Linked DNA regions of Homo sapiens: region 2 is linked to region 1. The links come from fine-mapping of genetic effects on gene expression. A gene starts in region 1. The other region holds a variant in brackets. All regions are shown on one strand. Distances are between the middles of the regions. Region 1 holds the start of SLC6A13 (solute carrier family 6 member 13). Region 2 overlaps SLC6A13 (solute carrier family 6 member 13).

Region 1 (2,912 bases):
ACATTGGCTGCCTAGGTTCACTGGTGTGTCTACTAAAAGCATCTTCTAATGACTCTGCCTTGATTTTGCAGAGTGGCCTCTTTTCTGGAGAAGGAGGCAGATGGACTTTTTTCTAAGCCTCAAGCAAAGTTCATGTTAACAGAACTTTCTCAGCAGTAACCTCTTCTGGCCACAGACTCTACTTTGGCTCTGACCCAGAAAATTAGAAAGTCAGTGAACAGGCCGGGTGCAATGGCTCACGCCTGTAATCCCAGCACTTGGGAGGCCGAGGCGGGTGGATCTCCTGAGGTCAGGAGTTTGAGACCAGCCTGGCCAACATGGTGACACCCCGTCTCTACGAAAAGTACAAAAATTAGCTGGGCATGGTGGCAGGCACCTGTAATCCCAGCTACTCAGGAGGCTGAGGCAGGAGAATCGCTTGAAACCAGGAGGCAGAGGTTGCAGTGAGCCGAGATCGCGCCACTGCACTCCAGTCTGGGCAACAAAGCGAGACTCTGTCTCAAAAAAAAGAAAAAAAAAAAAAGTCAGGGAACAGCAGGCATCTATGTTTATCTGATAAATTAGGGAATGAGCTCCTTTCTACAAAGGAGAAACTCAAGTAACTGGTCCCAAGAGGGCTCCTCAGTCCTTTTGGGAAGGTTGTCTAAGGTACTGACTGTGCTGGCCTCCCCTCCCTTTACCAGCTGATGGATCTCTCCCAGTGATGGAAAGCCTTCCCTTCTCCACCCTCCCAGACCCTAGGAGAAACAGTAGCCTTCTCCTGGCTCCCTTAGCCTCATTAGAGCTGCTTCTCAGAGGTAGCATGTTGTGTCTGAAAGGTCATGAGCTGTAGAGTCAGATGAGGCCAGGTTCAAACATTAGTTTTTTCTCATACCAATGTCTGACTTCAGAGAAGTTAATGAATGACTCTGAGCCTTAGTTTGTTCATCTGTAAAAGTGGGGATGATAGATAGGATATACTTAGCTATAAGAATTAAATGAGGAAATATACATATGTATACACACTTAATAGAATAACAGGTACTCAAATTTTTGTTTTCTTTCAGTCCTGTCAGAGTTGATCATTGTTCTCTTTTCTCAGAGAAGAAAGACTTTGTTTTCTTGGAGTTAAATCCAGTTGTCTTTCCTCTCAATCTAGGGCTCTCTCTTTCCAAATCACAGTGTCACTTAAGTCAACAGCCACCCAAGTTTCAGAAAGTCAAGAAAATAGCACATAATCTTTGCATTTGCACACATACATGTCAGAAGCGTACTTTCTAGGCGAGGGTAAGAAAAAAGTCCTTTGGTTGTAAGTCCCATGGATCCCACCAACCTGCAGTCTGAGACGCAGAAATAGAAAAAAAAGAGAAGAAAACATTTCGAACCTTAGTGAAGCTGCTGCCAGAGGTCCAGTCAGGGGAGAAGAATTATCTAAGGGGGAAGGAGAAGGTGCTGGCTATTTAAAGTGTGGTTCCAGAACGCCTCTGTGGCACTTGAAATTCTAAACTTGGCCCAGCCCACATTCCACCCTTGTGCCTCCCCCTCCCCTTTTCTCCCCTCCCCTCCCCTCGGCCACTGGACAACCCACACATGAGTGATTTCGCAGTCTGGGGAGTGTGCACGCCCTGGCAGGTCGGGCCAGTTGCTGGTGAGCTTATGAAGTGTGGTCTCCTCCCCGGAGCTCATGTGCGCTTCCCACCTGGTGAGCTCAGGGTCTCTCTGGAGGGATCCTGCCTCCCACCCCTGTCTCCAACACAAGTGCTCCTATAAATCCATCAAGAATAGGTATTCCTTTGGTCAGGTGCTGTGTAGATTAATTTAAAAATACATTTATCTTACCGTTTCGCAGCTTGCAATGTGGAATGGACGATGATTTAGAACAAAGATACATAGATACAGAACTCTGAGATGTCAGAAAAACTTCCCAAACATACACAGACATTTATACACATATAGAAAAAGTCTGAAAAAATCTTCGCTAAATGATTAATAGTAGTTACATTTGTAGAGTGGAACTGAGATCAGGAGATGGCAGTAAGGGAGATTTTTTCCCCACTTTTTCAATATTGTTTAGATTTTTTAATATGCTAGAATTTTAAAATATTTTTTAAATCAATAGAGAAAAGGAAGTGCCAACGTTTAAAATAAAGCAAAGCCCTAAAGCTGTTATAAGGGAAGGAGCAGGCGGTGAGCGCGAGGCCGAGGTCATCCAGGGAGCTTCGTTTCTCTGCAGGAACAGCCCACAGAGGCGGCTGTGAGAGTAGTTCATTCAGCCTGGAGTCTAGGACAGGGCAGAGTCCCACCTCAGCCATGTGCTGAAGCACAGTACATGTAGTGGAAACCTGCTCAGACTTTGACACCAGAGAGTGTGGGGTCTGAGTCCTACGTATGCCACTGTCTAGCTTGAGATTTCAGGAGATGATGACTAACTGTAAATGGCAGCTGTTATTCATCCTTAAGGGATTATTCACAGTGAGCAGTGAGCCCGGAAGTCTTCTTGAAGGAGACGGGACTGAGAGACCCCTGAGCTAAGCTGGGCTCTGGCCAGACTGTGAGAATGAGTTAGGTAGGGGATGCGGCAATGAGTGAGTGAGGTGATAGAGACATCTTGAGATGACGGAGAAGTGTGGAAAGAAAGACGGATCGAAGAGTCTAAGGTAGTTTCCGTTTCCTTGATCCCTCATCTAACTCAAGGGCATGGGGTAGGGGCATGGAAACACTGCATGGTAATACCTGGAGAGCTTCCCAGAAGCTTCTTGGAAATTATTATTCTTATGTTTCAGCGGCCCCTGTTCCTCTCCCCTTTCAAGCTTTCATCTGTTAGACTGAGCTCTGTAAAGCAATAAACCAAAAGCGTCCTGAGACAGCCTACAAACTCATGTAAAAAAAAGACCATCTTCAAAGCAGTGCTATTGACTTCCATTTTTACGTAT
Region 2 (2,912 bases), 36 kb before region 1:
GCGGCTTATGCCTATAATCCCAGCACTTTGGGAGGCTGGGGTGGGTGGATCACTTGAGGCCAGAGGTTCAAGACCAGCCTGGCCAACAAGGTGAAACCCTGTCTCTACTAAAAATACAAAAATTAGCCGGGCGTGGTGGCACATGCCTGTAATCTCAGCTACTCGGGAAGCTGAGGCATGAGAATCACTTCAGCCCGGGAAGCGGAGGTTGCAGTGAGCCGAGATCATGTCACTGCACTCCAGCCTGAGTGACAGAGCAAGACTCTATCTCAAACAGTTTAAAAAAAAAAAAAAAAAGAGGGAGAGAGAGACACTATCGTTCTTAAAGAGAATCACAGACATCCACTGCCCAGGGCTTGGCATCCTGTGTGGCCCAGGCGTGCTTCTGAATGCCAAGGTAAAAAAATCATATTATTACAGGGCAAAGTAGGTGAGCAAGAGAAACATTTTATGGCTTATCCAGACTGGGGCCTGGGCCTTGATGTTATTTGAAAGCAGCAAAATAGCACTGCATGGTGGAAAGGCAGTCACTCACAAAAGAGGGAAACCCTATCTGCTGATGGAAACTTCGCCTTGAGATTCATTTTATAGTGAACAAAACGAGGCCAGGTGCGGAAGAGTGTGTATAATATGTTATCATTTGGTTTTTTAAGAAGGAGGCAAGAAATAGAAATAGTAATATGTATTGCATGTATATGTCTGTATATATATTTTTTCTCATATATGTCTAAACTATTTCTGGAAGGATAAACATGAAATAGATAACATTGGCTGCTTCCAGGGTAATGAACTGGAAGCCAAGGATGGGAAGAAAAATGTTCACTGTAGGCCTACTCTTTAAAGCTGGAATGACTGTTTCAATTCTCCGCCAAGTCTTCCCAGAACGCATCCACTGAATGGTGGCCGTAGCTCACCCAGAGTGCAGGTGACACAATGGAAACGCCTCTAGACGCTTGCTGCCAGAGGTTTGAACCAGGCTCACTGCCTCCAGGCCTCCCCAGTAACACTCACCTGACTCGGCCACCTCAGAAATGGGCACCCCCTGCTCCTGAGACATGAAGCCCAGGATGGAGAAGATGGCAAAGCCGGCCACAAAGCTGGTGCCGCTGTTGAGGAAGCAGAGGGCGATGCAGTCCCTGTGGGGCAGGGGTGAGGAGAGGGCGGAATGGCAGGGTCAGAACAGGGCTGCAACCTCTCCTGCTTCCTGTCTGGGAGCACAGCCCCTCCTGGCGGACACTGTCCTGGCCCCTTCACGGACGCCGGAGCAGGGCTACCTGGCAGAATTCAGAGGACCACGCAAAGCACTGGCTCTCCTCCGACACTCCTCGGCCCCACCAGCCCAGGGACGGAATAAATCAAGGTAGTCCTAAAAGAATG[C/A]GGCTCCAGGGAAGCAAAACATGGATCTAGATGTGACAAACCGCCACACAGCCGCCCCTCTCTACCACGTAGGTCCACACCGCATGGGACGCCACCACTCTGCCATCATCCCATCTGGCATGCTAATGGGTAATCCCAAACAACAAATAACTCTTAGTCGCCTGAATTCAATTTTGAGAGGCACCATATGATTTCACTTCAGCTGTGTTTCAGCGTGTATTAAAATTGGCTTAAATTTTCTGAGCACAAACCAGGTAGGCAAGGAGAGAACGAGGGGGACAGGATGTGAAGTGAGGGAGATGGTGTGAAAAAGGGGCAAGGATTCAAAGTTTTGGGGGCAGATTTACCAAGCAAGCAAGACTGGGGTGCACAGTAGGACCTCACTTCACATCATGGATACATTCTCGCAAATTGCCATTTTAAGCAAAACAACCTATAATGAAACCAGTTTTTTTTCTCTCATCAAAGTTATAAGGAAACGACATTATTCAAAGACCTGTGGTGCTTCTCAGGCTTGCTTACCCAGCACTCCTGAGCCCACTAACCTCTACATCAGCCAGGAGGCCAGGCACCCCTGCTGTGGTCTCCCAGCCAATCACAACTATCCCACCCTTTCGGATGCAATTCTCTGTCCATCTTGCAGTTGGCTCCTTGCAGCTCCTGGTAGCCCTGGGGTGTTGGATATGGGGGTGTAGACAGGGGGGCAGATCCAGGAGCTGATGCACCCTCCAACTCACCCTCGTCTAGCGTGGCTGGAAGGACAGTAGAGAGATGCAGGTGTGTGGCTCAGGCCCCACGCCCCCAATCACCTGTAGCAGTTGTTGTGGTACTTGTTGTAGCTGCCCAGGGCTGTCAGGCACCCAAGACAGATGGCGAAGGAGAAGAATATCTGGGTGCCTGCATCCATCCACACCTACAAAGGGGAAGGGCAAGAAAGGTGAACTCCCAGGAAAGCCAGGCCATTCAAGCCATGGGCGGACACAGGCATGTGGCTGAGCCAGACACTGGCTAGGGATGGCGAGAAACCTGTTCTCAGCCAACACTTGCATCCTGCTACCTCTGCTCACCCCAGTGGGCTCTACTCCCTGGACTCCTAGGTGAAGTTTCTTGGGCACTACTAGGATAGAACAGGCATTAGGCATTCAAAGAAAATGAAAAAGACTAAAAGACCCATGGTGGAAGCGTGTAGGAGGGTGGGACAGGGCTCTAGAATGAAGCTAGGTCTCCTGTCAGGTTTTTGATCCTAGGTTCTGCCCCCACTCTCTCCTATGACCAGTGTGGAGGAATCCAGGCACAGGGTCTCCAGGAACACTGTCCCTAATAGCAGGGCCACCACCAGTATGTAGCTTTGCCCCTCACGTCTCAGCAACCTCTGTCTAAAGACAGGGAGAGTAATTCTCGGCTCACAAAAAGGCAAAAGGACGAACAGAAACACCTCTGAAAAGGGCTTTGTACTCCTTGGGAGGGAAAAAAATCACAGTCCAGCTAAACATAGAGTTCAGTTGTTATTGTTATTATCTCAGCTGGCTCGCCCA

Evidence for each region. PIP is the estimated chance that this variant, and not a neighbour inherited with it, causes the effect.
Region 2: its variant is fine-mapped to the expression of SLC6A13 in thyroid (GTEx, PIP above 0.99). The same link has a PIP of 0.9 or more in liver.

The regions. Positions count from the first base shown.
Region 1 is chr12:261,425-264,336 of GRCh38, forward strand. It overlaps SLC6A13 (solute carrier family 6 member 13), which reads right to left and starts at 1,412. Exons shown (of 15, transcript NM_016615.5): 1 at 1,365-1,412.
Region 2 is chr12:225,379-228,290 of GRCh38, forward strand. It overlaps SLC6A13 (solute carrier family 6 member 13), which reads right to left. Exons shown (of 15, transcript NM_016615.5): 8 at 2,187-2,290; 9 at 1,012-1,136. Among named protein-coding and RNA genes, the nearest start is that of SLC6A12, 13 kb to the left of the region's middle. The variant C/A (reference allele first, on the strand shown) is at 1,378.